Homo sapiens: one gene and its partner. The protein of the gene in region 1 purifies or fractionates together with the protein of each later gene. This does not show direct contact. Each region holds a gene or a part of one and is shown on either strand. Other genes may lie near its edges.

The links.
Region 2: the proteins of ATF6 (region 1) and STK40 purify together in Homo sapiens (affinity purification with mass spectrometry; 2 studies listed by BioGRID and IntAct, with this or other methods). This does not show direct contact.

The regions. Positions count from the first base shown.
Region 1 is NC_000001.11:161,787,408-161,802,593, reverse strand, and holds part of ATF6 (cyclic AMP-dependent transcription factor ATF-6 alpha), read right to left. Parts: intron 11,187-15,186; coding exon 11,057-11,186; intron 10,471-11,056; coding exon 10,267-10,470; intron 543-10,266; coding exon 322-542; intron 1-321.
Region 2 is NC_000001.11:36,350,174-36,365,359, reverse strand, and holds part of STK40 (serine/threonine-protein kinase 40), read left to right. Parts: intron 1-4,019; 5' UTR 4,020-4,027; coding exon 4,028-4,139; intron 4,140-6,522; coding exon of another isoform or gene 6,523-6,537; coding exon 6,538-6,623; intron 6,624-6,977; coding exon 6,978-7,121; intron 7,122-9,926; coding exon 9,927-10,154; intron 10,155-10,943; coding exon 10,944-10,996; intron 10,997-15,186. UniProt on the Homo sapiens protein: May be a negative regulator of NF-kappa-B and p53-mediated gene transcription.

The DNA of each region.
Region 1 (15,186 bases):
TGACTGGGTTGAGGGTGTAAGGGCTTGAAGAGAATAATAAGAGGGTTGGTTCTAAAGAAGGAGTAAAGAAGAGGGAGGTATGCATACTTTGCTTTTCATCAAACCACTTCACTTTCAAAAACCTTTTCACTTAGATTCTAACGTAGTAAGCCTTACCCTAATTTTCCTCCAAAGACTAGATGTGCAATTCAGCACACTCTTTTATTTGATGCAATATAAGAAACTCTAAAAAAAACAAAAACAAGGCAACAAAAGCAAAAGGTGTTTTTTTGTTGGTTTTTAAATCAGGCATTAAGAGAAGCACTAAGTTTCAAAACTTACATCTGAACCGACATTTCTCATGGTACTTTGTAGGACAGGTTTAGTCACGGAAAGTTTTCCATTCACTGGGCTATTCGCTGAAGGGGCTGGTACCACATTCACCACGTGATTAGGGAGCTGTGTGACTCCCCCAGCAACAGCAAGGACTGGCTGAGCAGAGGGCAGAACTCCAGGTGCTTGAAGTTGTACCACAGTAGGCTGAGACAGCAAAACCGTCTGGCCTGCGTTAGAAAAAAGAAAAGGAATCAAAGGGTACACAACTACTGTGGCAGGGGAAGCAGCTTATAATTAGGTCTTTTCTGCAGACGTAATGGGTAAGATCAACACCAAGGGATTGGACACCATCAATTAAAACATTGGATCAATAGCAGCACACGCTTATGGTGACTTTGTTATGTTTTTAATGTGACCAACTAAATTCATCTCTTTGAGTTATCATTAACAATATACTTTAATATACTTTCTTATTTATCTTTCTCAACTAAACAGCTATCAAATTTGCTGTAATCCCTAGATTTCTAAGAATTAACCTCTGAAATTTATTAGTGCTAAAAGGATTTGTCTTATTATAAATAACAAATCTTTTACACTGAATATGGAGAGTCATGTATTCTAAATTAATAGGATTTACAAATGCATACAATACCAAAAATATCTGAACATAAACTTAGTAACTCAATATTAGAAGAAGAAGGAGCTACAGGCCATGCACTGTGGCTTACACCTGTAATCCCAGTGCTTTGGGAGGCCAGCAGTTTGAGACCAGCCAAGGCAACATAGTGATAGCCTGTCTCTACAAAAAAAAATTTAAAAATTAGCCAGGTATGGTGGTATGTGCCTCGAGTCTTAGCTACTCAGGAGGCTGAGGCAGGCAGATCCCTAAAAAGGACAAAAAAAAAAAAAAAAAAAAAAAGACTACAAATACCAAAAAACTTAAAACCATTTGAGATTAAATCTTAGCTAACAATCACGGTAAACATAAATCTGTGATTCAAAATAGTCTGTAGATGATACCAGCCCTTTCCCTCTTCCCCCAAAAATGGCCTTCAATTCTTTTCTGAGTATTCAGAGGTATCATTATTTTAAATTTATGCTAATCTGACGAGAATTATTAGAGGTTGAACATCCTTAATCCAAAAACCCAAAATCCAAAATGCTCCAAAATCCAAAACTTTTTGAGTGCTGACACAACTTCACAAGTGGAAAACTCCACACTTCTGGTCCTAAGTATTTTGGATAAGGGATACTCAATCTATAATAATGACAATGAAGATGATGCTGTTAACGCTGCAGAAAAAGTGCCTATAGATGACATGGTAAAAATGTGTGATGGGCCTAGTGAAGGACTAAAGCAGCATACAGTCATAACAGAAAAAGAAATCATGTCAGTTTACAAAATCAAAAAGAGACTTCTAAAACAAAAACTTGTTAATGAGGCAGATGACTCCATAGAAAACATTTTTAGAAGTCATCCAGCAGAATGCCTCCTCATCCCTAGAGGACCCACTTCCAGTCTCTCAACTGCTTCTGATGTTTCTTCTCACCTGAAGACATAAAATAGAGGGTACAGTAGGCTTTTAATGAAAACAGCATCAAAGGCAGAGACTGAAAGCTGCCATTTTTTGTTGTTGCTGTTGTGTAGTAGCTGACACTGGTATTCTGGTGATTCTACTGTCCTGCCTTGTTACTCTGCACACATTATTTTTTCACTGTATTAATGGTATGTCATAATTTTTGTTAAGTTCTTAGGTGTGAATTTGTGAATAAGTGTAAGAAAATGATTGCTTGTCAGTAGCATATGAATTCAGAGCCAGGAATGATGGTGGTGCCAAACAACTACAGATTGTCCACAGGAGATAGTGACAACTGTGCTTTCTGATGGTTCACTGTATGCAAACTTGGTTTCATGCAGAGAATTATTTAAAATATTATATAAAATTACCTTCAGGCTATGTGTATGAGATATACATGAAACATAAATGAATTTCATGTTAGACTTGGGTTCTGTCCCCAAGATATCTCATTATGTATATGCAAATATTCTAAAATCCAAAAGTACCCAAAATCTGAAACACTTCTGGTTCCAAGCATTTCATTTAAGGGGTACTAAACCTGTACCATTAACCTAAAGACTTATACAACTCATAACACTAATCTATTAAAAATTTTACTTGCCTGCTAAGTGTTTCCTTTCAGATCTGGCAGATTTTTATAAGGTGCTGAAAGCCTTGCCTAACATCCACAGCTGCTTGAGCCTATCTAACAAAATGAAGGTACTAAAATAACTGGCAACTAAAATATCATGTAAATTTATAATTTGTTTAAGAAAAAAAAAGCATTATGCTTTCAGACAGGTTGACCCATGTAAAACTCAGCTCAATATTTCAAAGGATCGGGGAAAACTAAAAATCAAAATAAAGCTTCAGAACACCTGTTTGTCAAGAACATCTGTCTTGGCTAAAAAAGATAACTTATAAAAGCAAAGCCCTTGTTTCAGATGGCCTCAAAAAACACACTGAAAGTAGCAGAATTTCAATAAACAGCATTTTATCCCAGATAAGAAGATCTAAAAATAATTTCATGGATTTGGAGTAGATACAATGTATTAATACTTCGGCATAAATGATCATTAAACATTTTTACCTTCTCGTTTTCCCTTGGATTCAGTTTTTCTTTCCCCCAACTTTTATTTTAGGTTCAGGGGGTAGACAGGCAGGTTTGTTACATGGATAAATTGCATGTCACAGGTGTTTGGCATACAGATTATTTCATCACTCAGGTAATGAGCACAGTACCCAACAGGTAATTTTTAGATTCTCACCCTCCTTGCATCCTCCACCCTCAAAAGTAGCCCCTGTTGTCTATTGTCCCCTTTTTATGTCTATGTGTACTCAATGTATAACTCCCACTTATAAGACAGAACATGAAGTATTTGGTTTTCTGTTCCTGCATTAATTATCTTAGGATAATGGCCTTCAGCTCCATCCATGTTGCTGCAAAGAACATGATTTCATTCTTTTTTATGGCTGTGTAGTATTGAATGGTGTATATGTACCACATTTTCTTTATCCAGTTCACCACTGATGGGCATCTAGGTTGATTCCATGTCTTTGCTATTGTGAATAGTTCTGTGATGAACATATGTGTGCGTGTGTCTTTATATTCCCTTGGGTATATACCCAGTAATGGGACTGCTGGGTCAAATGGTAGTTCTACTTTAAGTTATTTGAGAAATCTACAAACTACGTTCAGTGGCTGAACCAATTTACATTCCCACCAGCAATGTATATGCATTCACTTTTCTCTGCAATCTTGCCAGCATCGGATATTTTTCAACTTTTTGATAGTAGCCATTCTGACTGATGTGAGATGGTATCTCACTGTTGTTTTGATTTACATTTCTCTAATGATTAGTGATGTTGAGCATTTTTTCATATGCTTATTGGCCATGTCTATGTCTTCTTTTGAAAGTGTCTGTTCATATCCTTTGCCCACTTCTTAATGGGGTTGTTTTTTGCTTGTTAAGTTTCTTGTAGATTCTGGAGATTAGACCTTTGTTGGATACACTGTTTGCAAATATTCTCTCCCATTCTGTAGGCTGTCCTATTCCTCTGTTGATAGTTTCTTTTGCTGTGCAGAAGCTCTTTAGTTGATTTTTATTTATTGATTTTTGAGCTCTGTCACCCAGGCTGGAGTGCAGTGGCACAATCTCAGCTCACTGCACCTGCCGCCTCCTGGGTTCAAGCAATTCTCCTGCCTCAGCCTCCCAAGTAACTGGGATTACAAGCATGTACCACCATGCCTGGCTAATTTATGTATTTTTAGTAGAGATGGGGTTTCACCATATTGGCCAGGTTGGTCTTGAATTCCTGATCTCAAGTGATGCACCCCTCAGCCTCCCAAAGTGCTGGGATTACAGGTGTGAACCACCACGCCCAGCCTCTTTAGTTTAATTAGATCCCATTTGTCAATTTTTGTTTTTGTTGCGATTGCTTTTGGAGTCTTCATCATGAAATCTTTGACAAGGCCTATGTCCAGAACCATATTTCCTAGGTTTTCTTCTAGGGTTTTTATAATTTGAGCCTGTACATTTAAGTCTTTCATCCATCTTGAGTTGGGTTTTGTATACACTGAAAGGAAAGGATCCAGTTTCAATCTTCTGCATATGGCTAGCCAGTTATCTTACCACCATTTATTGAATAGGCAGTCCTTTCCCCACTGTTTGTTTTTGTTAAAGACCAGATGGTTGCAGGGGTGCAGCTTTATTTCTGGGTTCTCTAATCTAATCCATCGGTCTATGTGCCTGTTTTTATACCAGTATCATGCTGTTTTGGTTACTGTAGTCTTGTAGTACAGTTTGAAATCAGGTAGCTTGATGCCTCTGGCTTTGTTCTTTTTGCTTAGGGCTGCTTTGGCTATTTAGGCTCTTTTTCAGTTCCATGTGAACTTTAGAATAGTTTTTCCTAATTGTGTGAAAAATGTCATTGATAGTTTGATAGGAATAGCATTAAATCTGTAAATTGCTTTGAGCAGTATGGCCATTTTAACACTATCGATTCTTCCTATCCATGAGCATGGAATGTTTTTCCATTTGTTTGTGTGATCTCTGATTTCTTTCAGCAGTGTTTTGTAACTCATTGTAGAGATCTTTCACCTCCCCAGCTTGCTGTATTCCCAGGTACTTTATATTCTTTTTTTGGCTATCGTGAATGAGACTGCATTCTTGATTTGGCTCTCAGCTTGGACATTACTGGGGTATAGAAATGCTGCTGACTTTTGTACATTGATTTTGTATCCTAAAACTTTGCTGAAGTTGTTTATCAGATCTAGGAGTCTTGGGCTGAGACTATGGGTTTTCCAGGTATAGAATCATATCGTCTGTGAAGAGAGGTAGTTTGACTTCCTCTCTTCCTATTTGGATGCCTTTTATTTCTTTCTCTTGCCTGACTGCTATGGCTACAACTTCCAGCACTATGTTGAATATGAGTGGTGAGAGGGACATCCTTGTCTTGTTCTGGTTCTCAAAGGGAATGTACTTCCAGCTCTTGCCCACTCATTACAATGTTGGCTGTGGACTTGCTATAGATGGTTCTTATTATTTTGAGGTATGTTCCTTTGATGCCTAATTTGTTTTGAGGTGGCCTCCATCTTTTATGAAGTAAAAACATATAAAATGCAGAAATTACTCAGAAGCAGATATAAACATGCTTAGGCCAAATACGCAAATAAAAATTAGAAACACATAAAGTAAATAGCATATGACCAAGTGTTAGGTTTTAATAACAATAAGAAATTACAGTAAATCTGGCACTATGAAAATATATATTTATCATAATGTGAAAAAAAAAACCAAAAAACAAGAATTCCCAAGTGCTCAAGTCATAGCCAGAGCAATCAGGCAAAAGAAAGAAATAAAAGGCATCCAAATATGAAGAGAGGAAGTCAAACCATCTCTCACACAGATGATATAATTCTACACCTAGAAAACCCATAGTCTCTCCCCAAAGGCTCCTGAATATAAGGGCTCTCTTTTAATATAAAATAATATCCTGGTCACCCAAAACCATCAAGGTTGTCCTTTCAGCTTCTGTGTACTGAGAAAATACATGATGGAAAAAGGCTGCTAAGAATTTAGTGAAGATTTAAAATGAACTTGGAGTTTATTAGTCAGAAGTATAGCTATAAAAATTTGAAGAGCTGTACAAAGATATATGAAATAAATTATTTGGTCTACAGAAAATGCTTGCTTCAAGTATGGATTTGCAGATGCTTTGCAAAATGCCATAAAGCTACTACCCCCATCACCCACATCCCAGGGTCCACAATATACAGACTGAGAACCACTGACTTAAACCAATACTTTGAGAAGAGTATTATAGGAAGCCATGTTCTACATCCTCTGAGTTTAAAATTATGATTAAAAGATCCCTCCCCAAAATTAAACACTGTTCAGGGAACTTTGGGACTATTTTAAAGAACAGAAGAGGTGTAAATATAATGAATTAGGCAACTTATAAGAAAGAATCCTATTTCTAGCTACAGTTACAGATTTAAAGCCCTAGCAGATAACATGTACAGAGGGCTTTGTAATATTTCTTAAACTAATTAAGAAAAATAATCCAAATCTGTACTACCAATTGTGTAATTACCACTGTCTCCTTGCTGAGACGACCGCATCACACAAAGGAGATGGAAGAATACCAAGGCAAGGCCAAATGTGGCTTGAGTCCTACCAAGCCACTGCTGCTTCCTTTTTTTCCCATATTGTATCAAGCCTTTTCATCCCAGAGTACCCAACTATCCTCAAATTACCCAGCAGCTAAATCAGGGATACTCTAAATATTCTAGGCATGTTTGGGTTCAACACAGAATGAGGGGAAACAACTAAATTTCTATGACAATATGTTCAAGTGAAAGAACAAAAAACTCTCATGGTGACTTGGTAAATGCTGACCAGGCCACAAACTACAATGCAAAGAATTGTTTGGGGCCTTAAATAGCAGCTGAACATAGTTACTACTGTTCCTAGTGTGGAAACAGTTAAAAAGGACATTCCAAAGGCTGTTTATCCATTTTAGCATGCTCAAAATCCTCTCTGGCATTACATGCAAATCCCCCTTAACGGAACATGGCTGGATTCAATGCCATATATTTTTTTGACTATGTGTAACTCACTGATTTTGATAGTTCTTTCTTTTAAACTTTCTTCAAAGATTTTAAACTATGTATCAAACATTTATTGAATGCCTACTTTGTCTGAAACAGCATCGGTGTGTGACTTAGGGCAAATAATCTGTACTTAGCGTTCTCATCTAAAAAATGGAGATATCACAACCCATCACCATAAATCATAGAAACATACTGAAGTTTCAAATAATGTGTAAATATTATTTGAAATAAGATAATGCACTTAAGCACTTAGAAGAGTGTCTGGCACATAGTAAGAACTTAAATGCAATTATTATTATTATTAATCTCCTTTTCTATATAATAATAGCTTCCATAAGGGCACTGCATGAGTTATTAATTTATTAGTTATCACAGTGACTGTTATTTAACTGTTTATGTGAATTTAATCCCCCAATTAAAGTGTAGAATTCTTGAGAGCAAGGAATACATCTGTCATTTTTTTTTTAAGGCGATACAGTATAGTGATTATTCACATAGACTCCGAGCCAGACCACCTGGGCTCAAGTTCTGGCTCCACTTCTTATTAGCAGAGTGATCTGGGCAACATATTTTACCTCTGTCTCCCATTTCAATAATTTTCGCCATCATCTACCCAAAAAGCCCCAAGATAGAAAAACGGAAGTCATCCTAGACACCTTCCTCTCTATCGTTCAGCCTCCTTCTACACAATCCAATTACCAATCTCTAAGATTCTACACTTTTAACATCTCTACTCTTCATCCTGGTTCTCCACTTTCATTGATATTCCAGGCTTTCATTATCTCTCATCTACACTACTCAAAACAGTCTTAAAGGACATGGAGGACTGAGAAGTAGAAGTAGGCATAAGTTGTTGCTGGTTGGTAGAAAATGGTGAGCCAAAAAACTAGGAAAAACAAGAGAATTCAAAGGACAATGACAGATTAGTTGAGCTAGAAGAAGGGATTTATAGAAAAGAGTAATATTATAAAGTTCGAAAACTAAACTAGGAGGCCAGGCATGGTGGCTCACGCCTTAATCCCAGAGCTTTGGGAGATCAAGGTGGGTAGATCCCTTGAGCCCAAGAATTCGAGACCAGACTGAGCAATATAGTGAGATCCTGTCTCTATTAAAAACAAACAAACAACAATAACAAAAAAACAAAAAACTAAACTAGAGCCAAATTGTGAAGAGTTTTACATTCCAAGCTAGAGAATCTCAGTCTTAAACCTGTGGAAATTACCTCTTCTTTTTCAATGGTAACATATTTACTACTAGTATTAACATGATTAACTGTATAATGTCTTGCCCATACTTCCCTTCTTCCTCCCCATTCTCAAATAAATGAAAAACATACTTTAAATCTGTATGTTATTATAATAATACCACCTATTTAGATTGTACTATAAAAACAGACAAGGCACCAGGCGCGGTGGCTCACACCTGTAATCCCAGCACTTTGGGAGGCCGAGGCAGGCGATTACGAGGTCAAGAGATCAAGACCATCCTGGCCGACATGGTGAAACCCTGTCTCTACTAAAAATATAAAAATTAGCTGGGCATGGTGGCACGTGCCTGTAGTCCCAGCTACTCTGGAGGCTGAAGCAGGAGAATCACTTGAACCCAGGAGGTGGAAGTTGCAGTGAGCCAAGATCACACCACTGCACTCCAGCCTGGCAACACAGCGAGACTCTGTCTCAAATAAAAGAAAAAAAACAGGCAAGGTGCAGTTCCTCATATTAGCACATGCTCACAAAAAAATAACTATAGTCTTCAGATGACAGGAAAGTATTGAAGTTTCAAATAATGTGTAATTCAGGTTTCTGGAACTGATAAACTGCTCAGAAAAGAACAGTTTGTCTTCTTATTATAGGTAAGATCTTCCATCACTCAAACATAGTCAATGATCTGCTAAGGGCAAATTCTTAGGAATACCCCTGCTTTATACGCTAGTCATATTAATGTCAGACTTTTTGTATAGACGTATTTTAATAGCTTATGGGAACTACAATGAGGTTCTTCATTAGTTTAAATTCTTAGCCTTTGGGAAGGCACAGATCCTTATGAGATCCTAATGAAAGTTTTGGAGACTATCCCTAGAATAATCCACATATGAACATACATTAAATCCTGCATTTTGTTTCAAGGAGTTCATGAACCCTTAATACACATTTATAAATCACAAGAATACCTATTCTATAGGAATGCTACTTTTCAGATGGAAAAGGCAGCAGTTCTGACTTTGTACTGAGAGAGCAGGCATTTCAAACTGGTTTTTGTTTGTTTGTTTGTCTGTTTATTTTTGGTGGGACTGATGGATGAATTTTCACTGATTCATCCATTCTCTCATCTAGGTCTTCTTTTTATCAATGTCATATTGTCTATGACCATGTAATAGAACAAAGCTAAAAGAGTATCTGGAAATTAAATTTATCAAATTTACCCTCATTAAAACTATGCTCCAAAAAACGAGCTACCTATTCACAATTGGAGATACAGTACAAATGTAACATTGGTGTTTATTTACAACCCATACCCCATTATCGCCTAGTCATATCTGGTGCCAACAAACTAAATCCAGAGATAAGAATGCTGCAAAAGTTTTCTTGTACCCAGTGTATACAGATATCAGTATGAGTACAATGATGACTAATCTACCTAAGAGATCTCCATACGGAAATGACTCCCATATCTGAATAGTACCAAATCCTCAGACTTGAACTTCTTTCAATAATGACATAAACCTCTCATAGAATCACAAGTGTATGAGGCCATCTGGTGGATAAAATACGAAACACACAAATTCTTAGCTAGTTGAAAGCAGAGTTCAGGTCTCCTCATGACCAGGTCAATATACTGTTTACTAAACCATGCAGCCTCCTCAGAGATTAAGGGTGTGATTCTATTGCTATAACACACCTGAAATGGACCCTATTATTTTAAATATTCCTTCAAAACAAAAAAAGTTCACAGCCACAAAAATCTGGCTGACCTGAACTCTGCCTTCAACTAGCTTAAAATTTGTGTTCCTGTATTTTATCCACCAGAATAAAATGGCACCAAGAAAGTGTCCCAGATTTTCAAAATAACCATCAGATGTAACTGGTCTGGAGAGCTATATCCCTTGTTATGACAGGAACCACACATTAGTCATCTCTGCAACGTCCTCATAACCAAAGACATTCCTGACAAACAGCACGTGCTCAGAAATTATAACCTGAATTAAAACAAATCATATGACACAACCCTTACTGCCCTCCAAATAAATTTACACAGCCTTAAATTCTGCTCAGGTACCTTTAGTGGGTGCAGGTTGTAAACTGATAATTGGTTGCTGCTTTGCCAATGGCATAAGCGTTGGTACTGTCTGAATAATGATGGTTTTTGCTGGAACACTGGAGTTTGTTTGAGTCTTGGGTGCTGCTGGAAGCAATAAAGGCTTGGGCTGAATTGAAGGTTTTGAATTCACCTGAATTTTTTTCTTTGGAGTCAGTCCATTTTCTGGAGAAAAACCAGACAAACCACAAGTCAATGTGAAAGCAATTACGCAAGCCCTAAAAAACAGATTCTATCACACACCTTTCTCTACACATTATCTTAACTTCGATTAACAATCTTTAACTGGAGTTTAAGCATAGCTACAGTACATATACCTGAATGAACTGAAGAAAAGTACTTAAACTGTTACCTCCTTTTCTAACCAAGCTGCAGTTTTGGGAATGGGACACACTAACTGGTAAAGGAGAATTGCTAAAATCACGGGATAACACCCAGAGATTAATGAGGTAACAAATGTCATAGCTCCATTCAGTTATCTTTAACTGAAACTTTGAAATCTCTCCTGAAGATGGTGGGGTCTGAGTCTATTTTAAAGTATCTTTCACCTGTAAAGACAGAGACAACCAAAGATTATTTCTCCCCTTTCCTCTCCACGGTAATCACTCACAACAAACAATATAGGTCCACCAATTAAAAAACAGCAAGCCAGCCTAATAAACATAAATTTAATCCAGCATTTTCTTTTAAGAAATGGAACCTAAGCTCAATCTGAAATAGAAATAACAGAAGTTAGGAGATAGAGTAATACCAGTCTTGTTCCTAGGACCAGTGACAGGCTTATCTTCCTTCAGTGGCTCCGCTGAAGAGAGACTATTAGAGTTTTCACCATATAAGGAAAGGGGAGACATCTGAGAACTAGAAGACAAATCCAACTCCTCCTGTAGCATAATAAAAACAAAAATTAATGAGTATAATCCTTAAGCAGCAAATTGCATAGAAAAGGAGGAGACCCACATATAAACAGAAAAACACTTCAGGGTAACTTCAAAGGAAAGGTATATTAGAAACTGTATATATATATTAAGTAATAAGTGACTATCAGCATGATCCATCTATACCAAAGGAAAAATAACTCAAAATGCAGAGTAAGTCTATGCCATCCTGTTAAAGATATGAATCATTGATCTGTTGCTACATTTCTTCCTACAAACTACACACACACACACACACACACACACAGAGACACACACACACACACAGAGACACACACACACACACACACATATAAAACTTGGTTCGTAGTCATACAAACATTCAGTATCAGTATAAGGTTGCAGTTAAAATGCCAATATCCTTTCTCCATAATCTCTCTTATTTGGTCTTAAAAGAATATCAAAAGCAAAATAATTTTATTTGTATTCTTTTCTGTTTTCTATTTTGTAATACTGCCTTTGTTCCAAATGTTGTAAAAGAAAGATGCATGAATGGAGCAGTGCTTTGTTGTTGTTGTTGTTGTTGTTGTTGTTGTTGTTGTTGAGACAGAGTCTCACTCTGTTGCCCAAGCTGGAGTGCAGTGACGCAATCTCAGCTCACTGCAACCTCTGCCTCCCCAGTTCAAGCAATTCTCCTGCCTTAGCCTCCCGAGTAGCTACAACCACAGATGTGTGCCACCACGCCTTGCTAAGTTTTTGTATTTCTGGTAGAGAGGGGGTTTCACCATGTTGGCTGGGCTGCTCTAAAACTCCTGACCTCATATGGTCCACCCACCTCAGCCTCCCAACGTGCTGGGATTACAGGCGTGAACCACCCCACCCAGCCAACAGTGCTATTTTCTTTAATTTAGTAGGTGAATTCATAATGATTGAGATACATAAAGATAACATTCGCATTTTCCCAAAGTCTTTTAATATTCAGTGAATCTATCTCATTTTGTTAGAATAAAGAAACAACATAGAAGTAGCAATTCAATTCAGACAGAAAAGATGGCATGCATGATCACGCAATAGACATAATCTCTACTTCATAACATCTTCAAAATAATCTATAAGATTATAATATAAAAATAAAATTTAAGAGAATACTTGTTTACTCTCAGGGTGTTGCAGACCCTCTTAAGTCAGAACACACAGAAGCCACAAAGGAAGAAGAAATAGATTTGAACAAATAATAAGTAAACTATTTAACAATAAAAACTAGACCATAAACAAAGTTAAAAGATATATATTGGTAGAAAATATTTGCGAAAAATAGACAAAAGGCAGGAACAGCCATTTCACTGAAAAGGAAACGCAAATGGTAGTCAAAGGCAAATTTAAACTTTTTTTATCATAAAAAAAAATTTAAATGACCTTGAGAGGATATGGGAGAAAGAAATGCTCTCAGTCTCACTGGTGAGAGTGACAAGTGACAATTGCATCTTCCTTCATCCTTAACACCTACTCAGCATGTAAGCTGAGCAATATGTAGAGTGTATTAAAATACATTTCCAAGAAACCAAAGAGTACAAGGTAACACGGGAGGAGACTATTATCTTCACGGCCTTTGATGCTTAAAAGGTATTTGATAATATTCGACAAGTATTCCTCAATAAAATCCTAGAAAACAAGGATCCGAGGAATACTTTCTTAACATTAAAAAGCTATCAGTAATTATACAGCCAAGTCCAATGCTGAATGCATTACAATTAAAGTCAGGATAAAAAATAGATACCTGCTTTTTCTGTAATTCTAGTATAATTACACTAAAAGAAGAAATTTAAAAAACATTAAAACAAAAGAGACAGCGTGCCTTTTAGCAAGGTAATATGCTATATACTTGAAGCACATGTAACAATCCACTGAAAAAAAAATTTGACTTGAAAATATTGTATTAATATACACTTAGAAAACATAATAAAAAATAAATATTTCAAGCCAGGCACAGAAAGACAAACATCACATGTTCTCACTTATTTGTGGGATCAAAAAACCAAAACAATTGAAATCATGAACATAGGGTAGAAGGATGGTTACCAGAGGCTGGGGAGGGTACTGAGAAGCTGGTAGTGAGATGGGGATTGTTAATGGGTAAAAAAAAAAAAAAAAAAAAAAAAAAGGAGAAGGAATAAGACATATTATTTAATAGCACAGCAGGGTGACTATACTCAATAAGAGCTTAGTTGTACATTTTAAAATAACAAAAAGTATGTAACTGGATTGTTTATAACACAAAGGATAAATGCTTGAGGGGATGGATACCCCATTTTCCATGATCTAATTATTTTACATTGCATGCCTGTGTCAAAACATCTCATGTACCCCACAAATATATATGCCTACCATGTACCCAAAAAAAGTTAAAAATAAAAAAGATTTAAATAAAACAAATAAATAAATATTTCACTCACAATAGCAATAACAATTACAAAATACCTAGAAATTTTCTAAGGAATGTGCAGGACCCATATGAAGAAAACTACACAACTGAACTAAGGCATAAAAGATTTCAGTAAACAGAGAGATATACAATATTGTTGAAAAGAGTGATTACAAGTGATTATAAAGACAATACAGTTAGGAAAACTGATTCATTTTATAGAGAAAATTAAAATTAGATCCCTACCTAGTGCTAGATCCCTACATAATACCACATATTAAAGTGGTGTCTAAGAGTATTAAGAAACCTAAATGTGAAAGGTAAACCATATGGTTAATAAAAGAAAATGCAGAATACCTCTGTGCTCTAAAAGCATAGAAGGACTTCTTAAATAAGCCATAAAGGAAAAGAAAAAAAAAGATAAGCCTGAGTAATTGAAAATTAACTATTTATACTTAATAAAGACTACAAAGTTAATAGATAATAGAAAGGGAAAAGATATAGGCAATTTGAATGTCTAAATCCAACAAGAGTTTTACTATTTCAAGTATATGAGGAATTCCTGCTGATAAACAAGAAGACAACAACTGAGTAGAAAAACTGGCAAAGGACAGGAATAAACAATGTATAAAAGAAAAAAAGTCCAAAAAGCTCATAAGAATGTAAATAAATGTTGAAAACAATAACCAAAGAAATACAAAGTAAAACAAAATAAAAGCAAACAACAAAAAAACACATTGTGCCATGGAGTAAAAATTAAAAAGGCAGACAATGCCAAGTATCAGGAGAGAAGTCACAGGGATCCTCAGGCACTGCTGCCAGCCCACAGAGTACTATGATGATCCTGGAGAGAAATATGGAAGCACTTGTCAAATTAAATACCTGCACATTCTACTACCCAGCAATTCTAGGCATATATTCTAAAGGATTTCTCACATGGGTCCGCAAGGGAACATTTTTTAAAATATTCATTATGGTGTAGGTAAAAATGTAGTGAATGCATACTTGAATGTTGTACAGAGTTAGATGCAACAGATTTGATGTACACAGAGCAATAGGAATTTATCTTAAAAACACTGTGCTGATTTTTAAAAGTAAATAATATAAAGATATCTACTATAATGCCATTTACATAAATTTAAAATACATGCATATAATTGAAATCAGATGAACTTTTTGATAAATGGTACTAGAATAATCATTTTGATAGTCATTTGGAAAAACATAAAATTGGATTTGTATCTCATATAATACACAAGGGTAATTTCAAATGGATCCGAGATCTAAACACTAAAAATAATATCTCATGATAAATACTTATTCATAGTCACTTAGAAAATATTCCTTCCTGAATAATTTTATCCTAAGCCACTAGATGGGGTAAAGCAAGACCACCATCCACGCAGAGAAGTAGCCTGGTGGAATGTCAGGGTCCAAGAAGGGTAGAGAGGGCACTGATATGGCAGGCGGCCTGGCATGAGGAGTCACAGCAGAGTGAGGAGGGCATCCGCATGGGAAGACAGCCTAGTGTAAGGACATCAGAGCCCAAAGGAGACATGTTAAAAGAACATAAGAGCTGGTGTG
Region 2 (15,186 bases), about 130 Mb from region 1:
GATCATCCCTCTTACTTTCTGGTGCACCACATATAGTCAGTCTCCTAGGGTTTAGAATAAGGGCCAAAACAGGCCGGGCGCGGTGCTCATGCCTGTAATCCCAACACTTTGGGAGGCCGAGGCGGGCGTATCGCCTGAGGTCGGGAGTTCGAGACCAGCCTGACCAACATGGAAGAACCCCATCTCTACTAAAAATACAAAATTAGGTGGGTGTGGTGGCACATGCCTGTAATCCCAGCTACTTGGGAGGCTGAGCAGGAGAATCACTTGAACCTGGGAGGCGGAGGTTGCGGTGAGCCAAGATCATGCCATTGCACTCCAGCCTGGGCAACAAGAGCGAGACTCCGTCTCAAAAAAAAAAAAAAAAAAAAGAATAAGGACCAAAACAATAGCATGTGAGGATTTCACCTTACTGGTGAAGACACACCTGTCCTCAGAGTAGGAGACGGCTTCCAGGAGTATCAGCAAAAACAAACTAAAGGAAAAGACAGAAATATTTAACTACATAAAAAGTCAACCTTATTTTTAATTTTAATTTAAAAAATGTAAATGTTATATTAATTTTATTGAGATGGGTCTCGCAACGTTGCCCAGGCTGGTCTCGAACTCCTGGGCTCAAGCAATCCTCCCGCCTCAGCCTCCCAAAGTGCTGGGATTACAGGCATGAGCCACCGCACCCAGCCCTTAACCATTTCTTTTTATTTTTTTAATTAAAAAAAAAAGATGAAAAAGCTATATGTCAGTTACATCCTTACATAGAAAGAGTTTCTAAAAATCAGTAACACTAATACATAGCAGTAAAAAATAGAAAAAGAATATAAAGGAAATTCATAAAAGAAATAATAGACACAGCCAGTAAGCATATGAAACAAATTCAACCTCAGAAATAATGAAAGAATTACGGATTTTAAAATGCTATGCTTTTTGTTGGCCACCCAATTAGCCATTTATAAGAGTAAGGAAATAACTCAGTCCTGGTGTAAGTTCTGGAACTCACTGGACTGTAAATTGGCACAGCCATCCTGGAAGCAGCCTGGCAGCATCTGTCAAATACCTTAAAAACATGTCCCCCTTGTATTAGCCTAATGGGGATTTTTTTTAAATGTGCCCCACTTGACTCTGCAATTCTGCTTCTTGGAATTTATCCAGAGGGAGACAGATAAGTATGACAAGATGTATATTTTTGTTGTTGTTGTTGTTTTTTCTTTTGAGACGGAGTCTTGCTCTGTCACCCAGGCTGGAGTACAGTGGTGCGATCTCAGCTCACTGCAAGCTCCGCCTCCTGGGTTCACACTATTCTCCTGCCTCAGCCTCCCGAGTAGCTGGGACTACAGGTGCCCACCACCACACCCGGCTAATTTTTTGTATTTTTAGTAGAGACAGGGTTTCACCGTGTTAACCAGGATGGTCTCGATCTCCTGACCTCGTGATCTTCCCTCCTTGGCCTCCCAAAGTGCTGGGATTACAGGTGTGAGCCACCGCGCTTGGCTGACAAGATGTATACTTGTATGTGCGTGACTATTAATTCTTTTTTTTTTTTTTTTTGAGACAGAGTCTCACTCTGTCACCCAGGCTGGAGTGCAGTGGTGTGATCTGGGCTCACTGCAAGCTCCGCCTCCCAGGTTCACACTATTCTCCTGCCTCAGCCTTCCAAGTAGCTGGGACTACAGGGGCCCGCCACCATGCTCAGCTAATTTTTTTTTTTTTTTGTATTTTTAGTAGAGACGGGGTTTCACAGTGTTAGCCAGGATGGTCTCGCTCTCCTGACCTGGTGATCCGCCCGCTTCGGCCTCCCAAAGTGCTGGTATTACAGGCGTGAGCCACTGCGCCCGGCTAATTCTTTTTAAATGGAAAGAACCTAGATGTCCATAAATAGGGAATGGTCAGAGAAATCACTGTATATTTGTACCAAGGAGCCTGTGTAGCTATCTCAAGTGATGTTGCAAAAGAATATTGTGATGCAGGGATGTTAATGGGTTTTTGTTTTGTTTTTTACAGCTTTATTGAGATGTATTTCACATACTATACAATTTATCCTTAATGGTTTTTGTTTGTTTTAAGATGGAGTCTTGCTGTGTCCCCTAGGCTGGAGTACAATGGCGCCATCTCAGCTCATGCAACCTCCGCCTCCCCAGTTCAAGCGATTTTCCTGCCTCAGCCTCCCGAGACAGGCGCCCACCATCATGCCCAGCTAATTTTTTTTTTGAGACAGAGTCTTACTCTGTTGCCCAGGCTGAAGTGCAGTGGCGTGATCTCAGCTCACTGTAGACTCCGTGTCCTGGGTTCAAGCGATTCTCGTGCCTCAGCCACCAAGTAGGTGGGATTACAGGTGTGCACCACCAGGACCAGCTAATTTCTGTATTTTTAGTAGAGACGGGGTTTCACCATGTTGGCCAGGCTGGCCTTGAACTCCTGACTTCAGGTGATCCACCCACCTCGGCCTCCCTAAGTGTTGGGATTAAAAGCATGGAGTCAATGCGCCAGACCTCCCTTAATGTATTTTAGGTGGGAAAAAAGGAAACATAAAATAGCATTACAGTGTGGTCCACATGTTTGTAATAATAAAACTTTATATAAGCATACACACAGTCACACACAGGAAAAACATGCTTGAATGTTAACAGCAGTTATATCTGGGAGGTAAGGTCATGGGTACCTTATTTTCTTATTTTTGCACATGCGTATTTTCTAATGTTTCTGCAGAGAACATCAGTTACTTTTATATGAAGAAAAATACAGGAACAGGCTGGAGTTCTGTGTTTTTGAGTCCATTATGGAAGGGTAAAGGCTACACTCCTAAGGTGGGTGTCAGGCCTCTATCCTGGGCCACCTCTCACCACTCCCTGCCTCGCGTTGGATGCTTCAGCAACACAAACTACCTGGCGTTGGTGGCTTGCATGCCATTTCTTACCTGGGCATGTTTGCTCACTGAGGCCCTCCTACCATGAAGGTCCTTGCCCCTTGCCTGGCCCACTCCTGTATCCTTAGGGAAATTTTCCCGGAGCCCTGCACCCACACTGGGCATCCTGTGACCCTGACCTTCCCCATGTGGAACTCGTCTGTACACATCTGTTTCCTTGTCCCCCCCGGATCCTGCTTTGCCAAGGTGTTTGACTTTGGAGAGCTGGAAGAGACAACTCCTCTTTTGTGTTTTTATCTGTTATTTTTAAATCTGTGTCCAGAGGTGTCTTTTAGCCTCTGGCCCCAATGTCCGCCTTTCATTTTTACGCAGGAGGATCTCGGGATTATCAGGCAAATCAGAGTGCTCAGTGATCTTCAGTAGTGTTCTTTAACTGACTCTTAAATACACAATGAATTTTCTTTTTCTGAAAAGTAATTCAGGAAAAGTTTGAGTTTATGAGGGAAGAGAAAGTAAACCCTGCCATTGACAACTTTGGGGGGTTCTTTCATCTGAGAGGACCAGAGAGTCAAGGAAAGATGGGGAGAGGGGTTCTCAGGGCTGTAGTCATCAAACTCCGTGGGCATAAGAAGCCCCCAGGCCTCGTGTAACAAGCATCCCATTCCTGGGGCCCACTGTCCAGATACGGGCCAGGAATGGGCACCTCGGGTCATTAGGCTGTAGGTATTTGGAGGGCAGGTCTCACTTTGGGAACAGTTGCTCACCTCAGGGCTGGGGTTCAGCTGGATGGGGCTGGCTCTCCTCTCTGTCTCTGTGGTAGTCTCTTGGGGCTCTGTTTGGCATTAGCATCTGCACAAAGCCCAGTTTTCTCCTCTCTGAATTTAACTGGCCACTTGGTGGTGGTGTGTTGGCTCCCCGCCTCTGTACCCTGTATATGCTGCCTTAAAGGATGTCCACCTTTAGCATCTAATTAATCCCAAGTAAAGGAGCTGTGGTTCTTTGTCACTTGGAGCCTTGGATGCTCCCCTGGTAGCAGGAGGAGTTGGAGGCAGCAGCGGCAGCTGTGTGATGCATCCCAAGTCAAAGGCCTGCAGGCTGGGTTAGCATAAGGAAACTCGCTGACTTACTCAGTGAGAAGGGGTCTTTCTGTCTTGTCTAGAGCTGAGAATGAAGCGGAGAGCATCAGACAGAGGAGCTGGGGAAACGTCGGCCAGGGCCAAGGCTCTAGGAAGTGGGATTTCTGGAAATAATGCAAAGAGAGCTGGACCATTCATCCTTGGTAAGCCTCTGACCTTTGGGAAAAATGGGTGGGCTGGGAGGCAGGGGCAGGGCACATTGGCTCGCATGATCTGACCTACAGACATCAGAGTGAGGTGGCCCACCCACAGCAGTGTGTGGTCCTGCCCTGCCCCAGGCTTGGTCCCTAGCTTCACTACTTGAAACAGAATATGTTTATATCAGTGGAAGACCCAAGCCTTGGGTCACTCTGTACCAGGGGCTGTCAGTGTTTTAGCCATACCAGCCTTAGATCAGCCTTAGCCAATAGCTAGGCTCCGACTCTCCCCCCAGAGAATCCTATGTGTGCCCCTAGAATGGTGACGTGCTCACAGGAAGCACACCCATTAGAAGTCATTAGCTGCATTAGAACCCAAGCTCTGGCCAGGTGCAATAGCTCACTTATGTAATCCCAGCACTTTTCGAGGCTGAGGTGAGAGGATCACTTGTGGCTAAGAGTTCAAGACTTTGCAAGCTTGGGCAACATAGTGAGATCCCATCTCTACTAGAAAAATATAAAAATTAATTGGGTGTGGTGTCACATGCCTGTAGTCCTAGCTACTTGGGAGGCTGAGGCAGGAGGATTACTTGAGCCCAGGAGTTTGAGGTTACAGTGAGTCGTGATCACGCCACTGCATTCCAGCCTAGGCAACGGTGCGAGACTCTCTCTCTAAAAAAATAAAATAAAATAAAATAAAATAAAATAAAATAAAATGAAAACCCAAGATCTATCATCCAAGGCACTGCTTTATGCCATTCTTGGATGGCATAATTTCACAAAGCATTTTGTATAGCCCCCCAAATTTATTTAAATTGGCACAGAAATCCTGGCACAGGTGTTGGCAGTTGGCCAGAGGAGCAGCAAAGCATTTCTGCATGATGCATAAGGACCAGCAGTCCAAATTGCTTATAGTCAGGGTTGCAGCCAGAGACTGGGCGTGAGTTTTACTTTGGGACAGCATTTTGGACTTACAGGCTCAGGATAGTTCCAGCTCCAGTCATTCAGTACATACTTAATGGTGTGTACCTACTACGTGCCAGGCCTGTGCTGTTTGCCAGGCCTGTGCTGTTTGCCAGGCATGCAGCAGTGAATAAGACAAGTTCCTGCCCTCACAGAGAAACAGAGTAAACAACTCACCAGTCATCACCGGTGGTGCAAGTGCCTTGAAGGAAGTTCCACGATGACGTGAGATGAGAAGGGCCCGTAGGTAGGGCAGGCAAGAAAGGCCTGTTTATGAGGAAACACCATATGAGCTGACACCTGAGGAGGAGAAGCAGCAACTGTGGGGAAAGCTGGGGAAGAACATTGCAGACAGAAGAAACAGCACTGCAGAGGCCCAGCAGCAGGAAAGGGCTTACCATGTTGGGAACTAGGAGCCCAACATTAGGAGCTGGAGTGTGGCATGGGACAGGGAATGGAACATCCTGTTAGAAAGGTGGGCGGGAACTGAATCATGCAAGGCCTTGGGGGCCAGACAAAGGAGTTTGGGTGGTATGTTAAGAGCAGTGGGTCTGTGAACATTGCACTGGTAAAAAGGAAAACCAAGAGCAGCGGAGCTTCGTTAAGAGTTTTTCACGCAGCAGTGGCACTGTGACATCAGATTTCCACTCTCAAAGCTTGGGCAAGGTGCTGTCACGGGACAGTGAGCACTGTGCATCTCCAGAAGTACAGAAAGTCCCCAAAGCTGGCACTTGGACAGGGGCCAGATGGCTGTATCAGAATCTCCAGGGAACCTGTTGCGGCTCTAGTTTCCTGGATCCTCACCCTGAAGTTGCTCTTCAGGGGATCCAGGATCTCTTGGGTTTTGTTGATTTTTTTGAGGCAGGGCTTTGTTCTGTTGCCCTGGCTGGAGTGCAGTGGCACAAACACAGTTCACTGCAGCCTCAGCCTCCTGGGCTCAAACGATCCTCCCACCTCAGCCTTCCAAGTAGCTGGGTCTACAGGTATGCTCCACCATGCTCAGCCAATATTTTATTTTTTGTAGAGAAGAAGTCTCACTGTGTTGCCCAGGCTGGTCTCAAACTCCTGGGCTCAAGCAGTCCTCCCACCTCAGCCTCCCAAAGTGTTGGGATTACAGGTGTGAGCCACCACACCCAGCCTGGATCTCTTGTTTTTAATAGATGCTCACTAGACATTCCAGCGTGCACCCAGGGTTGAAAACCTCTCTTTGGGAAATGTGTTTGCAAAAGCTGGATGTGCTCCAGGCAGAGCACACATACCCCTCTATTTTTGGAGGGGAGACCTTGAAAACTCTCCACCAGGAGACCTTGGAGGGTCAGTCCAGTACACATGAGCTATGGTGCCCTCCTGAATAGAAGGTCTAGTAAAAGACCACGTGGTGACCTGGCGTCGTGACAGCCAGGGCTTCTGAAAAGTAGACCAGCAGCTCTCTGTGCCGTAGGTCCCCGTCTGGGCAACTCACCGGTGCCAAGCATAGTGCAGTGTTTGGCGAGGAAAGATGGCACGGATGACTTCTATCAGCTGAAGGTAAGTGAGACATGGGGGTGAGGGTGCCTCAGGAACAGGGCCTGTCATGCCAACCCACTCCTCCCTCCTCCACCTTCACACCTGCGTCATTGTGAACAAGAGTAGCGCCATTTCTTCCCGAGAAGCAATCAAGTTCACAGTCTCCCTCAGAACAACTTCTGATTTAAAGAGTTTTGTCTGTGCATAAATTACATCACCATCATATTAAGAAAAACGATTTCACTTGGTGTGTTTGTGTGTGCATTGTGCACAAATGTCATGTGGTAAAAAGCCCCCTGCTTCCCCCGTTCTGGTTGTTCTGCTGTGTAAAGTGAGGTGTTCTGGTTTTGGTTTTATTTTTATGCTTTCCTAAAGATCCTGACCCTGGAGGAGAGGGGGGACCAAGGCATAGAGAGCCAGGAAGAGCGGCAGGGCAAGATGCTGCTGCACACCGAGTACTCACTGCTGTCTCTCCTGCACACGCAGGATGGCGTGGTGCACCACCACGGCCTCTTCCAGGTGAGCGGCCTTCCCCCTCACCCTTCGCGCTCACCTCTGGCTGGCTCTGTGGGCTGCCACTTGCTGGGGCCACAGCCATACGAGCAGCTCACGTGACCCTTGGGTGTCCCTGCCATGCTAGGTACATCAGGACTTCCAGGGTGGGTGAGATGGGCTGGGCTGGAAGTCAGGCTGGGCCACACTAGCTGTGCTCCTGTGGGGATGGTTATAGCCTAGCCAGGAATGCACACAGTTTGCATCTTAACAGCAGCCAGGCTTTCTTTGAAGAGCCACTTTTCCGAGAAAAGAGGAAAGCAAGAAGTCACTTAAAGACACCCGGGCCCAGGCCAGGCACGGTGGCTCACAACTGTAATCCCAGCAACGTGGGAAGCCGAGGTGGGCAGATCACAAGGTCAGGAGATCGAGACCATCCTGGCCAACAAGGTGAAACCCCGTCTCCACTAAAAATACAAAAATTAGCTGGGCATGGCGGCGCACACCTGTAGTCCCAGCTACTCGGGAGGCTGAGGCAGGAGAATCGCTTGAGCCCGGGAGGTGGAGGTTGCAGTGAGCCAAGATTGTGCCACTGAACTCCAGCCTGGGTGACAGAGCGAGACTCCATCTCAAAAGGGCCCCCTTGTCCTTTTTTTTAAAATTTTTTTTTTTGAGACATTTACTGGACAAACTGAAATGCCTGAGCAGGCAGAAGAACAGGTGGTCAGATCCCTTAGGAAAGGTATTGATTAACAGTGTGTACCTGACAAGAACCATTCTTGGGGCAGCACTGAAGTTGTATCTCCAGAAATGAAGAGTTGGGTTCAGAATGACTGGGAGGCCTCCTTCACAGGCTTGGGAACAGCCCCATTCCTCAGCTGAGCATCCACTGAGCCCTCAGCCGTTTGCTGGCCAGGACCAGCTCTTGCTAAGACAGACCTGCTGTTTGAGAGGCACACAGTGCCAGAGAGAGCAGTCACATTTTGATGCTGACAGTCCTGGATTCAGCTAGTATGACCTTGGGCAAGTCACTTAAGGTCTCTAGGCCTCAGATTCCCCATCTATAAAATGGGGATAGTGATAACAGTACCTACCTCCATTGGTGGTTGGGACGATGAATGAGATTGTGTCAAGCACTGAGCTGCTGCTGGAACACTGTCATCATCATTGCTGTTCAGGCATAAAAACTCCTTGTCAGCTTGAGTTCCTAAAATAAAACAAAGGGAAAACACTTCCCATCCCCATGTATACACCCCAGCAAGGTCTTTGTTCTTAGATTTGCAATTAGAGGTGACTCAGAGTATTTTTAGGCAACTCCAAAAATTAGAGTATCCCCATAAACATGAAATCAAATTGAGGGTGATTGTGGTTTCTTGGTATTTTGTCTGTGATATCTTCAGAAGCTTGGCCTTAGTTCATGTCATTTTGGATGAGAGAACCTGGGTGATCAGAAGTGTTTCTAGTGTACTGTTTGTGTGCCAGACACTGTGCTAGGAAAAGCAAATATGAGGTGTGGTCCTGCTCTTAAGAAGAAATGTGGAGGCCGGGCGAGGTAGCTTATGCCTGTAAACCCAGCACTTTGGGAGGCTAAGGCGGGCGGATCATGAGGTCAGGAGATTGAGACCATACTGGCTAACACGGTGAAACCCCATCTCTACTAAAAGTACAAAAAATTAGCCGGGCATGGTGGTGGGCACCTGTATTCCCAGCTACTCGGGAGGCTGAGGCAGGAGAATGGCATGAACCTGGGAGGCAGAGCTTGCAGTGAGCCGAGAGCGTGACACTGCACTCCAGCCTGGGCAACAGAGTGAGACTCCGTCTCACAAAAAAAAAAAAAAAAAAAAAAAGAAAAAGAAGAAATGTGGATATTCAGTCCTTCAGGAGTTCCCCAGAGGGGACAGTCAGTCTACCCCGCATGACACCAAGGACTTCCTCAAGCTGGTCAGATGAAGTCCCCCTGTTTTTTGTCTTACTCGAAATACCTTTCAGCAAGGAAAATGGGTCTAGAGTTTGCTACCATTGTGTCCATCTCGCAGCCACAACATTGGTGGCAGTACCCACTTACTGAGCCCTGGCAGTGCATGACCTAAGCACAGGACATGGATTGTCTTATTTACTTCTCTTGGGCTGTGGGGGAAAGATTACTAGCTCCCTTTTACCGATGAGGAACTAGAGACCTGGAGAGGGTAAGCAGACTGCCCCAGGTCCCACAGCTAAGACAAGGTGGCTGGGGCCTGAACCCAGCAGTCTGAGGTCAGAGTCACTCTTAGCCATCATGTGACTGTCGGGAGTACTGCATCCCGACAGTCCTCTTTTCTGAGAAAAGAGGAAAGCAGGAAGGCACTTGAGGAAAACAGGTGTCCTGGATACACAGAACCTGTATGGCCTCTGGAGCCTGCCAAGATTGACCTCTTTCTAACTTCCGCCATCTTAGATATCAAAAGGGGGTTCTGTTGGTGATTACTGGAATCTGGGTGCCATGGATTCCCATTTTTGCTGCTTGAGCACTGGGCTAAGAGGGCCCTTGGGCTCTAAATGCCCAGACCTGATCTGAATCCTTTGCATTATGATCAAAGCATTAAGCCTTCACCTGAGATGTTTTAGCTTCAGCCTCTTGCTGGTCCTGGCATTTGGCACACAAGAGGCTGCACAGTGCTGACCTGCCCCATGGTCTAGGCTGCCCAGGCCTCAGTCCTCTCTGGCCCGCACATGCAGGCTAATTCCAGGCTCCCTCACTGGTTTGAGTGTCCCACTCCAGAGGAGAGTCCCAGGCCCTGGCCTTGGCCCTGCCAAGTTCACAGCCAAGCCCTGCGCTACCCCCTTGCCTCCCAGGACCGCACCTGTGAAATCGTTGAGGACACAGAATCCAGCCGGATGGTTAAGAAGATGAAGAAGCGCATCTGCCTCGTCCTGGACTGCCTCTGTGCTCATGACTTCAGCGATAAGACCGCTGACCTCATCAACCTGCAGCACTACGTCATCAAGGAGAAGAGGCTCAGCGAGAGGGAGACTGTGGTAATCTTCTACGACGTGGTCCGCGTGGTGGAGGCCCTGCACCAGGTGAGGCCACACCCTGCTGCTGCGCCTTCTGGCCACAGAAAGCCACCTTTCTTGCTGCTGCTGAGCAGAAGGCAGCTCTGTCCTGTGCACCCAGGTGTGCTTTGCAGCTGGGAGTGTCCAAAAGAAGAGTGACTGAATGGCAGGTGCACAGGGTGAGGCACAGTGCCACCCTGCAGGCCACCTTCCTGGTGAGGGCTGACCTGCAGCCCAGCTGTGGTAATTACCACAGCCAACTGTGTTAATTCCCCATCAGTTAAGAGGCCTGGTGTCCACCCCCATGTAGTGATGACAGTGAGATACCCACCCAAGCAACTACAGCACATCTGAGCTTTTTGTAGGATTAGAGGTGTCAGGCACGCTGGGACAAAGGATAGGAGAGCCTGAGCCTCTTCCCGGTGTGCCGCTTCTGTGGGCCGAGCCTGTGGTACTTAGTCACAAAGCCATGACAGCTCCTCCCCGACCCCCAGATCCATCCTGTCCATGGAATGTCTAATGGAGGGGAAAAAATGAGTGACTTTCGCCACCAGCCACTGCCCTGAGGGGAGAAAGAGCTAAAGAAGCTGCCACAGATGGGGAGACACTGACTAGGTGCACATTCATTCCCCATCCAGACGCGCAGGTCACGCGAACTTAGAACTGTCCTGATCTGCCTGTGCTTGGAGCCTAAAGAGACACATCATAGAATTTTTCCTGCCTTCTCGAACACCTGGAGAGCCCCCATCTTACAGGGTGGGCCCTGACCCCACCTCTCACATTGACAATGTAAACCATACGCCTGTTGTTTTACAGAAAAATATCGTGCACAGAGACCTGAAGCTGGGGAACATGGTGCTCAACAAGAGGTAAGATCCCTGTCTCTACATCCATACAGTTACCCCGGGGCTGGGGCAGGCTACACATTGCAACTCTCCAGTGCCCTGAAGTGTCCTCATGAGGATTCCGACTCAAAACAACCCACTTCCTCCAGGAATCCCAGGGCTCGGGATGGGATGAACATGGGAATTGGGGGCTTGCTGAGACTGGGAGTTTTGAGCCACAGAAAGGGAGCTCTGGGAAGAACTTTAGATCTCCCTTGTCCATTTATTTGTCACACCTGGCTCCTAGTGGGTACTCATAAAATTACTATAAAAATGGACTAAATGGTCAGGTGCGGTGGCTCCCGCCTGTAATCCCAGCACTTTGGGAGGCTGAGGCGGGAGGATCACTTGAGCCCAGGAGTTTGAGACCAGCCTGGGCAACATAATGAAGACCCCATCTCTACAAAAATATATATATTTTTTGAATGGACAAATGGGGTGAAGGAACGAGCAAAATGATGCCTTGCCATAGGTCAATTTCCTCAGGAAACAGACTCTGAGGTTTACGTGCAGAAGGTTTACTGTGAAGTGCTCTCAGGGTGAGGGGGTGGAATTAGGCAGAGGGAGAAGCTGAACCGCAGTGAAGTCCCAGCAGGGCCTCAGCCTGAAAAACTCGAGAGTGGGATGGCCTGCAGATGGCCCGCGCTTGGCCTTTGTGCCCCCACAGCAATCAGTCACTGAATGTCTGCTGTCCTTAGGGAGGGGCATTCTCTTAGGCAAGGCAGCTTCTTTTGGCTAAGAGGGCCTCCTGGAGAGGGATGCAGCTGTGAGTGGTTACCTGTAAAATGCCACCAGCTCTCTCAGCAGCAAGGAGAGCATGCCTTAGACTTGGAGGGGATCTGGCGGCCCACCCTTGTTGGGGTGAACCAGCAGCAGAGGGACACCAAGCACGGCCCTGGTTTCAGGTTGTCATCCCGCCTCGACAGAGGGTCCTGGGCCTCTTTGGAGTGATCTGGGACAGTGCTACCACTGTCTCACCATGTTAGAGGGACCACCAACCATGTAGGAACCCAGGACCAGCAGGAAGTGGGCCCACTCTGTGGGCTACCATGATCCTTGAAATGCAGGGCTGAGAAGGGCACATCTCCCCCACTCCGCCCCCACCCATTATTTCTGAGCTCCCCTCTGTCACCTCTCAACTCGGCATTGAGCAGGTTGAAGGGCTTACAAAGGCAGCCTGAATCTCACAGCAGAAGTGTTGTGGTGGGTGATTCATTCCATGATGTGGCCAGCCCAGCCCAGGAAGGGCCCGAGGCCCACTGTCCTCTAAAGAGGCCAAAGCCACAGTGGTCAGAGGAAAAGAAGCTGCCTGGAGGTTGGCCTCCGGGGAGGGGGCATTGCCTTGTGCCCCATCTCAACTGATGGGGAATTACTGCTGGGGGTTCCAGATCCCATAGCTCCAGCCTGAGAGGCCATCGGGACGATGCTGTGCACCTCAGCTGCTAAGCATTCTCCATCCTTCGACTAGCACCACCTGGTGCTGGGGCTGCAGACAGAAACGCTCAGTGGTTCCCACTACCCTCTGGAGCCCACCATCTGATGGTGTACTGACCAGAAGATGGTATCATGTGTGGAGGACTGGCGTGCAGAGGGCAAGGGACATGTGGAGGGACAGTGGCTGCCACCTGAGTCAATTCGTGAAGGATGAGTTGGGATTTGCCAGGCTGAGAAAGTGAAGGGATGAGAACCTTGCCCTGCTATGCTCTGCAGGGGGAAGGGAGGGAAACAGGAAATTCCAGAGCTGCTTGAACCCTGGACTGGCTGAGTGAGTGAGTTGAGGAGGACGGAAGCAGCACTGACATGGGGGTCAGACCTGGCTCACTTCCCAGTGCCACTTCTTCGTTATCTTGGAGACCGTGAGAGTGTGGTCCTCTGGGTACTTACTGATTGAATTCATATATTGAGGTACCAAGCACTTCTCTGAGCTTCCATTTCCTCATCTGTGAAAGTGAAGGTCATCCTGGCTTCCTGGGAAGATTGGCCTGAGATGCAAATCAGTGGGTGTGAGGCTGCGTAATATGATGGGGTTTGGCGCATCACGGGCACACCCCAGTGCTAATGTAGCCAGGACTGGAGAGCCTGTCGCTGAGAGACAGGAGAACAGGACCCATGGGCTCACATCTCTGGAGATGAGGCCTGCTGCATGTTGAGTGGCCAACGAGGACACCCCTGGTGAGGGCCCAGCGGTCCCCCAGCCATAGCTCTGCATCATGAGAGGAGGTGGTGGGGAGCCCCGAGCAAACCAGCCCTGGGCTGTGGAGAGCCAGTTGTCATAAAGTTGGGAAATTGGGTCCTGCCCCTTCCCCTGGCCCTCTCTGGGGCCTTGGGCCAGTCCCATCCTGCTGTGGACTACAGGCTTACTGTTCACAAAGAGAGAGCATATTTTTTGGGCACCTAAATCCATCTGGCTGCAGAGCCCATGTGCCCTCCAGCTGGACTAGAGAGCTCCCAGACCTTCCACAGCAGCCATTCATTGGCTGTAAATGAACATCCCAGGGTTGTCATGGGAACTTGCCGGGCTCATGCCTGCTAACCACACCAGCACTCCTGGCCCTTTGTGTCACTGGGGGATTTGCTTCCAACTCTCACTTCCCCAGGGCCCCTTGGTCCTGGGAGTGTAGTCGAGGGGTCGCACCTCCCTGCATACGCCGGCGTGGCTGTAGCAGCTCTGCTGTGAGTGTGAGTGCGTGCTCCTCAGGGTGCAGAATGCCAATGCCTCACTCATACCCAGTGTCCTGGTTGTACTTCCTGAATCTGATAAATCCCCCTTTTTGTGTCTCAGGGCAGACAGAGGTTCTGGCTGCCTTTTACTTGAGTCATGGGCGCTCCAGAGTGGCAGGGTAGTGTGGTGCAGAGAGACTCACTGCTCCGTGTGTGTCCTCTGGCACACCCTCCGCTCTGGGGCCCCACTCTCACCTCGTTCAGTTGACCTGAAGGAGCTCCAGCCCACTCCAGCCCCTTCCCACCCATCATGCCAGGCTATAACTCCACTGGAGCAGTAGGCGGACCAGCTGGAGGCCTTCTCAGCAGAGCAGAGAGCTCTCAAGGAGCAGACAGGGGGAGGTGTTGGCAAGGCAGCTGCAACAACAAGTTCACCCCGCTTTGGATTTTAAAAGGATCGAAATTCGAAATCCTCTTCTGGGGTTATGTGAGGTGCTGTGGGGTCTTTTTCCTTCCTCCTTTCTTTTTGGTAGGCAAGCAACATACCAAGTTCCTAGAAAAGGAGAAAAACACTGTGGCAGCCCAGAGGGCCATAGCTAAAGCGTGACTCACTCAGAGCCGATCCTACTGACACACGTCCCCTCCCTCCGTCCCACTCTGCCATTGCCCCCTCCTGTCAGGACCAGACTAGGGGGTCTGGGACTCCCGGGGAGCCATGCACCCCCCACTTGGGTGGTGGTGGCAGGGCAGGGGAGTGTTGCCAAACCTCAGGAGGACTTGGAGCTGCCCGTGCCACTTCCTGTGGAGAGACTCCAGTGCGCCTGCCGCTCAGCCCTGCAGAGCCTCAGCTGTGCCTGCCCGTGCCCTGGCAGAGGGTGGGAAAGTCCCACCAGCAGTGTTGAGTTGAAAGCTCAGCCACACTGGCATGTGCTCTCCGGGGCCTGTTGTCACACCATGGCACCTCTCCCCTACCGCCTCCAAGACAGAGTCTTTTCCTACCAGGTGTGCCAACCATCGGAGATGAGAGGACACCAGCTTCTACTATTTGCCAGGCATTGGGCTAAGTGCCCTCCATGAGATTATCTTATCTTGCTGAATCCTAACCCAGTTCTGGAGTTTGGTGCTGGGATTTCACTGTTGTACGCATGAGGAAATTGAGGTTTAGCAAGAGATTCACAGAGCAAGGAAGTGGCAGAGCCAGGACTAGGAACCTGGCTCCCAAACCCACCGTACTTTCTCCTGAGCTGTCCTCCTCTCAGCGTCTTGAGCCTCAGAGACCCACAGGATGCATTTGCAGCTTCCGCGGCCATCTCTGACCAGGGGAGAAAACCCACAGTGCCTCTGCTCTGTGGGAACCTTCTGGACAAGAGGCCCGAGCAGCCCCATATTCAGGGCAGCGGCACTGGAGCTTCAGAGCTAGAGCAGCCCACTCCTTGACGTGCAAGTGACCCTTTGCAGTGACCCTTCACCTGTGCGATCAGGCTCTAGCCGCCTGCGGGCCACCAGTCAGACTC